2 separate regions of the Homo sapiens genome follow, and region 2 is linked to region 1. Evidence: fine-mapped expression QTL. Tissue or cell type: monocytes. Region 1 holds a variant in brackets; the other region holds the start of a gene. All regions are shown on one strand. Distances are from middle to middle.

The links. PIP is the estimated chance that this variant, and not a neighbour inherited with it, causes the effect.
Region 2: it holds the start of DARS1, and the variant in region 1 is fine-mapped to the expression of DARS1 in monocytes (TOPMed, PIP 0.98).

The regions. Positions count from the first base shown.
Region 1 is chr2:135,761,434-135,766,695 of GRCh38, forward strand. UBXN4 (UBX domain protein 4) reads left to right here. Exons shown (of 13, transcript NM_014607.4): 6 at 385-478. Among named protein-coding and RNA genes, the nearest start is that of UBXN4, 22 kb to the left of the region's middle. The variant G/A (reference allele first, on the strand shown) is at 2,511.
Region 2 is chr2:135,982,608-135,987,607 of GRCh38, forward strand. DARS1 (aspartyl-tRNA synthetase 1) reads right to left here and starts at 3,019. Exons shown (of 16, transcript NM_001349.4): 1 at 2,796-3,019; 2 at 790-847. The coding sequence starts at 2,861. DARS1-AS1 (DARS1 antisense RNA 1) reads left to right here and starts at 2,569. Exons shown (of 4, transcript NR_110199.1): 1 at 2,569-2,909. RefSeq lists a silencer at 2,656-2,715 and an enhancer at 2,766-2,865.

The DNA.
Region 1 (5,262 bases):
AGTAACCTCATTTTAGATGTTCAACAGCCGCTTGTCTAGTGGCTGCTGTGTTAGACAGTATAGATATTGGAGGGCACTGCTCTAGAGTGAAGGCTACCCATAGCCAGGCATGCCTCCTGCCAGATTGTTATTCATGTTTTACATCTGACCTTTACCTTGGTGATTTTAACTCGGTAACTGCTTTATTTCTATTTGTGAACAATTTTATCCACGTCTAAACTTTAGGATTAGTAATAGCATATTTAGCTCCTTCTCCATTTTTAGGGAAAATATATAATGCTTAAGATATAAAATTATTAACAGATGCTATAATCTGAAAGATTTATTCCTTTAAAAAGTTGCATTAAATGCAGTATTCTTATTTCTTTTTATTTAATAATTAAGGAGGAGAAAGTGCAGGCCATGCCACTTCCTCTCAGGAGCCTAGTGGATGCTCAGATCAGAGACCTGCAGAGGACCTCAACATCCGAGTGGAAAGGTTTGCTCTTCTTTTTGCAAATAGCATTTTGTTTAAAAAGACAGTGGTTTTCAGTTATTTCATTAATTTGAATTAAAGCTAAAGTTATACAAATGAAGTTTTAGAATTCTGAGTTGAAATTTTTGATCACCTAACTAATTTGTATCCATAAACATTACACTCTAAGTGTAAAGTTTTCATGTATGTCTGAAGTCACCAGTCAGCTTTTGGTCTGATCATTCTAAGAATCCCCTTTTTAATGGTATTTTGGTACATGGGTGTTTCCATCTGTCACTTCTGCTTTTATCTCTATGCCATAAGGATAATAAGCTCCAGATGGGCAAGAACTTCAGCTTATTTCATGACTATGTACTGAGCTTAAGTTCTGCATAAGTGGGTGTCTACTAAGTGGCATTTTTCATTAGTTGGTCTAATAATCAGATACAAATTTCTGGCTCTTTGTAGTTTCTAGTATTTTTAATGATACAGTAATTGTCAAATCATAGTCTTTTATGCTGTGATTCCTACATGAGTTAATAATTAGTGGTTAAGCGGGAATATTTTAAACCCTGATTTAAACCCCTTTAGCGTTAGTTATATGGAAGTTTAAAAAAATTCCTTAGCATTTAAAAATTTTTTTAAAAAAACCTTCCTTAGAGAGACTTGATATTTTCTTGTTCACATAGATGCTTCGGGGAAACAGGGTTCAAAGTGATTGCTGATATTGTCTTTGAGTTTGCTTGTGACTCAGTAAAGATCAGCTTCTTTTCAGCAAAACCTAGATTCTGATTGTTCTTTGTAGGGGAAGGGGCAGTGCCCAGACCTTGAGGTGAAAAGCAGGCTGGACCTCACAGTGGTGAGGAAAGTGGTATAAGCCTAGAAGAATAGCAGCAGGAAACTTAAGTTCCCAAGGGTTCATCCTGTTTTGCTTCTTTCTGATTTGCTAACACCAGGCCCACTACTCTGTACCTTTATTTGCACCACTCTGGGCTGAAGTGAAAATAAAAAATCTGGAAAAGGGTTTGGAGACTTGGGGCAAAAACCTGAATTACATCAGGTAGCCCTTTATTTTGAGGTGGGGTCAGGCGCTATTTAGTTATACTGGAAAAAGTTTTTAATAGCCTCCATTCTTATGTAGGGGAATGTCAGCTAGTGTCTGCCTGTGTCATAGTACTAATTAATTCACAAGCTGAGATCCTGCATTTTATTCATCTGCGTTCATGCCAAATTAGGAATCTTGTTCCTTTTGTGGAATCTGATTCATTGACAATGACAATAACTAATAACACCAGCGTATGTAATATTCCCATTCCAAATGTCCACTTAGCTCATTATTTATACCCTAAGAGTTGCCATCGTTCTCACCATCCCCTGCCATAGACTGTGAAGCTCTTGTGCCCTCAACTAACTCATCCCCTGCCATCTTTTGCAGGGTATTGAACTGTGAAACTACTAGTTTCCCTGTCTCTCTGAACTGAAGTGCTTTTTCTCAGCCTGGTTAAGTTGGACCCATCAGTCCCTGTTGTGTAATCTGATATTTTAGAATTATATGAAGTTCTATAAAGCAAAATTCATGCATTTTTCTCTGACCTTGATGGTATTTTAAAATCTATTTCATACAAATTAAAAATTCAGAGTTAAAATTTGGCAGGGGCTGTGAGTGGTGGCTCACGCCTGTAATCCCAGCACTTTGGGAGGCTGAGACAGGTGGTTTGCTTGAGCCCAGAAAATAGAGACCAGCCTGGGCAACATGGCAAAACCCCATCTCTACAAAAAAATACAAAAATTAATTGGGTGAGGTGGTGCACACCTGTAGTCCCAGCTACTCAGGAGGCTGAGGTGGGAGGATCACCTGAGCCCAGGAGGTCAAGGCTGCAGTGAGCCATGATCACACCACTGTACTCCAGCCTGAGTGACAGAGCAAGACTCTGTCTCAAAAAGTAAATAAATAAGACCAGGCATGGTGGATCACGCCTGTAGTCCCAGCACTTTGAGAGGCTGAGATGGGTGGATCATTTGAGGCCGGGAGTTCAAGACCAGCCTGGCCAACGTG[G/A]CGAAACCCTGTCTCTACTAGAAAAATACAAAAATTAGCTGGGCATGGCACGCATCTGTAGTCCCAGCTACTCAGGAGGTTGAGGCAGGAAAATTGCTTGAACCCGGGATGCAGAGGTTGCAGTGAGCCAAGGTCATGCCACTACACTCCAGCCTGGGTGACAGAGTGCTACTCCGTCTCAAAATAAATAAAATAAAATAAAATAAAAAATAAAGCAGGATGGATTAGCAAATGTAAGATTCTTACTTTCCTCTCAGGCTACAGTTGAAACTGAGATCTATTTCCAAAGACCATGTTTTTGGAAAACTAATTACTGTAGTTGACTTTAAGTCTTAGGCTTTTTTCTCATCTAGCTTCAAAGAAAACTAATTTTGTTAAGGGAAAGGGTGACTAAATCAAATTGACATTAGTGAGAAATTCATCCTATCTTGTACATAAGAACATAGTCCTTCAATCTTGAGCTGCATTTTGTCAAGTAAACATAATTAAAAAAAAACGGATTGGTGATTTGAAATTGTGAGATCTAAGTTTTTATTTTTAATATTAATGGATATACAATGGTTATTTATTTATTTATGAGGCAGAGTCTTGCCCTGTTGCCCAGGCTGGAGTGCAGTGGCATGATCTTGGCTCACTGTAGCCTCTGACTCCCGGGTTCCAGCGATTCTCCTGCCTCAGCCTCCCAAGTAGCTGGGATTACAGGCATGCACCACCACACCCGGCTAATTTTTAAAATATTTTTAGTAGCAACAGGGTTTCGCCATGTTGGCTGGGCTGGTCTTGAACTTCTGACTTCAGGTCATCTGCTCACCTTGGCCTCCCAAAGTGCTGGGATTACAGGTGTGAGCCACAGCACCTCGCCTGTGATGGTTTTTTGTTTGTTTGTTTTTGAGATGAAGTCTGGCTCTGTTGCCAGGCTGGAGTGCAGTGACATGATCTCGGCTCACTGCAACCTCCTCCACCCAGTTCAAGTGGTCCTCGTACCTCAGCTTCCTGAGTATCTGGGATTACAGGTATGCGCCACCATGACTGGCTAATTTTTGTATTTTTAGTAGAGACAGGGGTTTGCCATGTTGGCCAGGCTGGTCTCGAACTCCTGGCCTCAAATAATCCACCCGCCTTGGCTTCTTCAAGTGCTGAGATTACAGGCTTGAGCCACCACGTCTGGCCAGGATATACAATGTTTCACTAAAGTAACAGATGTGAAATAGGAATCTTTTAGCGAATCTTTAGTTAAAATGCATTATTTTGTTTATTTCATTATGTTTTTTTTTTTTTTCCCTGAGATGGAGTTTTGCTCTTGTCGCCCAAGCTGGGGTGCAATGGCACAATCTCGGCTCACTGCAACCTCCACCTCCCAGATTCAAGCGATTCTCCTGCCTCAGCCTCCCGAGTAGCTGGGATTACAGGTGCCCACCACCACACCCGGCTAATTTTTATATTTTTAGTAGAGGCAGGGGTTTCACCATGTTGGTCAAGCTGGTCTCGAACTCCTGACCTCAGGTGATCTGCCCGCCTCGGCCTCCCAAAGTGCTGGAATTACGGGCATGAGCCACCACACCCAGCCATGTCATTATGTTTAAAATGGGCAGAATTATCTGGCAAAGATAATATATACTACCATGAATTCTAGTCTTTTTATTTGAATAAGTTTCAAACCTCAACGTTGAAAAAATAGTGTAATGGCCATCTTTTAATTTTTTTCTTTTTTTTTTTCTTCTGATTCATTTGAAAGTTGCAGACATAATTTCACTTCATGCCTAGATACCTCAGCATGCAGCTCCTAGGAAGACATTGGCTGAGGGTCTGTGGGCTTTGAGCAGGGACTCCATCCTAGGCCAGGATCTGGGGATCTGTGCTCACAGACCCATGTCCTGCCCCCTTCTGGCACCCAAGCAGGCATAGTGACCATTAAGAAGTAGATGCCAGCCCGGCACAGTGGCTCATGCCTGTAATCCCAGCACTTTGGGAGGCCGAGGTAGGTGGATCAACTGAGGTCAGGAGTTCGAGACCAGCCTGAGCAACATGGTGAAACCCTGTCTCTACTAAAAATACAAAAATTACCCGGACGTAGTGGTGGGTACCTGTAATCTCAGCTATTTGGGAGGCTGAGGCAGGAAAATTGCTTGAACCCAGGACGTAGAGATTGCAGTGAGCTGAGATTATGCCATTGCACTCCAGCGTGGGCAATAAGAGAGAAAAGCCATCTCAAAAAAAAAAAAAAGTCGAAGCCCAAATGTAGAAGTTATGGAACAGTCAATTTGTTATTAAATTAGATGCAGTGTAGCTTTTCACCCAAATTAAAACAAACTTGCGTTTGTATTTCTCAGAAGAAAATTCTACAGATGGTCTATAAATACGTTTATACACCATTTTCAGATGGTGTATATTTTCAGATACAAGCACGATACCATTATCATACTCAAGAAATTCTCAATTGATACAGTAAGATTATCTAATTTGTCCGTATTCAGATTTCCCAGTTGCTCCAATAATGGCCCTTTTAACTTTTCTTCCCTTGATTCAAGATCCAGTCAAGGATTGTTCATTGCATTTAGTTTAGGCTCTGAATCCAAGACACTTCTTGTTTGCATTTTTCATGATTTAGACATTTTGAAGAGTCTAGGTTAGTTGTTTCTACAATGTCCTTTGATCTGCTCCCTGTTCTATCATTAGATTCAGGTTAAACTCTGATAAGAACATTACCAAGATAATGTTTTGTCCTTTCCATTACTCATATCAGGAGACAAGT
Region 2 (5,000 bases), 220 kb after region 1:
AAAAGAAATATAAAGATGCCAACATACACTAACAAAAAAGAGCGGTTATAAGAAAAGATAGACTGGGGTCTAAGAATAATTCATTTCATTCCCAGACACTAAAGCTACGAGTAAACAAAATGGAGTGGGGGTGGAGGCTTTAAAACTCAAATCATAGTACTGCCAAAGAAGCCAGAGAAGATGTAAGATGGAAGGACCCATGGACTCTAGGGTCAGATGGCCTTTGGTTCTAATCCCAAGTCTGGCAGACTCTGTGTAAGTCAAGTTTCTTATCTTTCAACTTTGGTTCCTTAGTTTTCAAGGATGCTGTAGAGAATAAGTGAAAATATAAATGTTTGGGAAGAGTCAAGCAAAATAGGAATAAATAATAGCTAAAAACAGTCAGAGAAGTAAAGTTGTGGGGGTTGGGGGAAGTAAAAGAGGTAGCTTTATTAAAGCATGCAAAAAGGCTACATGTGATGAAGGCAGTTATTAGCCACTCTCCTATCTCCTAGACAACGGTTGAATCTTACCTAATAATTTAGGAATATTTAAAAAATATAATCTACCATTTAAAACATACCATTTAACCTACAATACCTAATAACATTTTTTTTCCTTTTCTAGAGTTGGAACCCTAAACTGACAATGTTTACACAGGGTTATGACATCTACTTGGATTATTAATGTCATTTAAGCTTTTCAGAATTATACCTTCAGATTTATGCCAACCTTACTTAAAATTTCATTTAGAGCTTTCCTGGAATTAGAAAGCAAAAAAGCTTTATTTACTGTCACATAGCTACTAACCTGGTTTTTCTTGTGATTGTATCATTGAAGATATTCCATATCTCTCTTTAGCATAATCCTACAAAAAAAGTTTTTTGCATCGTGACTTTTTATGTAAACACTAAGAGCACAGTAAACACATAAATACTAATAATAGAATATAAAAATGAATTTAACTTTCAGGATCATTTTATTAATTCAGAAAGTCAGTAGTTTCATAATGTGGAAATCTCTCATTCATTTACATATGTACTCTACAGAAAACAGAAAAGTACTGTTTCTGGTTAGTTTGTTTTGAAGATCACCACTCCTAGATGGATTTACCATACTTAATAACATTCTCAGATAAAATTTACACATATGTACAACACATCTTAACTACCTTCTTCAAAAAGATGAAACTACTTCAAAGCAGGGACATAAATTTCCTCTGTGAAGGGAGTAGGATGAAGTACCACAGTTTTATTAACTTCCTATTACAGGAAGAAATGTTCAAAGAGAACCAACGTTTTGGGTAAGCTTTCTGAGCACCAGATGTCCACAGTTTTTAGAAACTGGAGATGCTGGGTATAAGCTAACTACAACTTTCCTTTTGTAAAACATCATCAAAAAATTCACCAGCTTCCTGTTTCTAAAAACCAGATTCAGGATACCAGGTTACAGGAGTTTGACACTGACAATATAATAATATCAAATTTCTTGTTACAGATTAGAGTTAGGAACAGGAAACAGAAGACCTAGGGTCCAATCTGTTAACAAAATATACTTATTAAATAGATAAGTGGCCTTTATTTCAATCTTACTTTACCTCTAAAATGATCTAAGATTCTTCTAGCTATAAAATGGCATAACTCTGCCACAATGTCTACCTTGTATCTAGACCTATACTATCTGTAAGGGTACACTGATAGTTTATGTAATTAAGCAGATTAAGAGTACACAAAAATAATTGCCCTAGTTTTTACAAGGTAACTTAAGATCTGTATGAAACAATTAAGTTTCTGTCACTTTACAGCTACCTGTTGGAATCCTCTCCTTTAGAGCAGGAGGGTGCTGGATTTTGTGTTTACACCAAAATAAAACCAGACATGTTTAAGGCGCTTACTGAACAATTTAAAGAAAAAGATAACCCTGGCCAGAGTAGAGAGATACAGTCACACAATGAAGCCTGAGGGCAACAGAAGGAGATTAAATTGTGTGAAGGACAAAAAAGTTGCATTCATAATTAGTACTATTAATATTTCAGTGACTCTTCCTCATTTAGTATTCTAAGATGACCTTACTTCTCATGTTGCTTACCACAAACTCAGAACTCCTTATAGAAAAATTAGGGAGCCAGACGGAAATTAAGGCTTAACAGTACTACAGCACACATAACTTGTAGGATGGTTTCAAACTTTGATTTCTGAAAAGCACCGAAGGATCACTGGGTGTTATGAATTATCCACGTGATTTGGGGTCACTTCACCTCAAATGCATTCTCGGTAACTCCTATTACCTACCTTACCGGGTCACTGAGAGGGAGAAAGTAAATAAAAATGACATGTGTTCTTTAAAGCTGTCACATGGGAAATGGTCATTAAACATATTGGCAGATGGTTTTGCTAAGTACTGTCATTACTTGCTAAAGCATTAGGAACACGAGGGCTGAGTACATATCGATTACTAGTGCTTATTAAAATTTTCCCAGGGATTGTGCATTACGTGCAGGACGTGCCTAACCCAGAGAGACTCAAGTGTGACGCCGCGCTCCTACTTCCGGGGCGGCTGGTTCTTCCCGTCCTCCCCACCCCGGGGACACGCTTCTAGTAGGCCAAACTCCCAGGTGACCCCCGCAAGAAACGCGGTCCGGAGAGGGTCTGGCCCCACTGCTGGGGCAAGGGCTCTAGGCGCCCGGACCCCACGCCCGCAGCCTGCGGAGAACGTGCCGACAAGGACCTGTAGGGCCCCACTCCCCCTCCTCCCTCCCTCGGCGCAGCCCGGCCCAGGGGTCTGTCCTCCCAGGCCCAGGAAAGGAGGAAACCCACTTCCGCCGCGTCCATGATCTCCCGCGGCTTCTCCTGACTCTTGCGGCTGGCGCTGGCGCTGGGCATCGGGACACGGAACTGGGCAGTGGACACCACCCTCCCTCGCAGGCTTCCGTAAGGCAGGCCAAAGGGGCTTCTCCCTCCCTCCCAGTCTCCGCCCTCCCGACCCTGGGGTCTCAGCACACGCGCTCGGACTCCGCGTGGAGGTGCGGCTCCAGAAAGATCGCGAGAGCTGCGGCTATCTCGAGATCCCGGAGCGCTGGCGGCCGCGCGCAGGGTCTCCTCCCACTCTTGCCCCGCCCCTCCGGGAGTTTTCCCGGAGTTGGAGGGAATTCCCGGGAATTCGCGGTAGTTTCGCTGGATTGGCTCTGGGGGCGGGGGCAGGGGTTACCAGGTGGCTGGCTGTAGACCTGGGCGAATGCCAGCTCTCTTCAGCTTCGTCCCAACTGCGACTTCTGCTCCATTCTTCTAACAGCCCTTTCAACTCCGCTCGGCTGTAACCGCAGACTCGTCACTAAAACACCCACCTAAGCGCGGGCCTTGGTTTCTCCTCTCTTGGACTTTCCCGCCTTCTCTCTTCCCCTGGGCGACGTAGCTGCTTGGGGACGGAGGAGGCCTCTTCGCAATCCATTGCCCTGCTTGTTGGGACAGAGGAGTGCAGTTGGCTTGCCAAGGCAGCATGGGTTACCAGTCCCTGTGTAAGTGAGGTGTAAATACAGTGGCAACGACAACAAGAAACGCATACAATTGCATTGATTGCCTGGATCTGTTGCAGTGTTAGGGACAGTGCATAGTGTTGGTTGCCCAATGGGCGAATATCCCCAAGTTAGGCTTTTTTAAAAAACTGATTTTTTAAAAAAGCTATCATTCATGAGTTTTGAATCGAAATTGAAAATAATTTGGAGATTTGGTTTAATACTGTTTCCCCTGCCAGAGTTTGCACTCCGTCGTTTCAACTGACTTGGTAGTGTCTTAGTCTGGCACAAAGTGTTAAGGGGTGCACATAGATCCCAGCGCAAGTGAAAGGCTCTCTCTGGAGGCTCCCCCATGGAGTAGTGAGAAGACAGCCATGGTCCTTGCTTGCCTGTAGCTTTCCTTCTAATTGCAGGTGGTATGAAATTTTATTCCCTATTTAATTGATCAAAGATTATTTACAAACATCTACTTTGTGCCAGGCATTCTATCAGGTGCTGGCAATAAAAAGATAAGTCCTAGTTCCTGTTCTTAATATTACACAGGTACCTAGGCTGATAGATGCGCCATCTTGATACATGCTTCCATTATTACAGAGTCAGGAAGAGAATTTAGCTCTTAAAATGGCTGCCTGGAAGTGACACATTTCACATTCTCCTAGTTTATTGGCGAGAACAAGTCACATCGTCATTCCTGAGTTCATGGGGGCAGGAGAATTTACTCATTCCTTGGGGAGCAACACTGAATATTCATGATCAGTATCACATTCCGTTAAAAAAGGCATCCCATTATACTCATGGGATTCGAATACAGAAGGGGGTCTGTGAAGTTGCTTCATCTTGGAATTTTTTTTAAAACTTGGATTGCCTCAATCAGGTATAGTCCTAATGTATGGACTGGTTATCAGAAATCTGAATACAAATCCCATCTATTATCCCTTTGCTAGGGTAGCGATCTTACCTTTCCATCTGTCCATGAGGCCTGTCCATGTACTTCTTTCTTACTTTGGCCCCGTTGCCTTGATAAAAGTATTCTTATTTAGTCCTGGAATAAGACTGTAAATATATATTCTTGTTTCTGGCCTCCTTTCCTGATAGTGATAGAAAAGAAGCATTTGCCAGATCAGTGGCCACATGTCATATGCCTGAGGTCTTAAGAATCTGCTGTAGTAAAGATACCACAGCTGCAACTGAGGCTGTGACTTGGTTGAACTTGCAGTAGTCTACTGTCAAGTTCCTGAATTTGTCTGGTTTTTGCTGGAGCCACACCGGTGACAATAGGAATGTGATGGAGACTACCAACCATTACGTCTTTAAGGGTTGCACTGATCTCCACTATTCCCCTTGGGGACATGTTATTGTTTATGATTTCCTATCCTAGTTGGGGGCTGGGAAAGTGACTTTTAGAGATTTCCTCTTAGCTTTATCCGGTATGGTAGCCTATTCCACAGACCAAAGAATAGGGGAACAGCTCTGCTATGGTGCTCTGGCTGCTTTGCAGGATCCACATAAG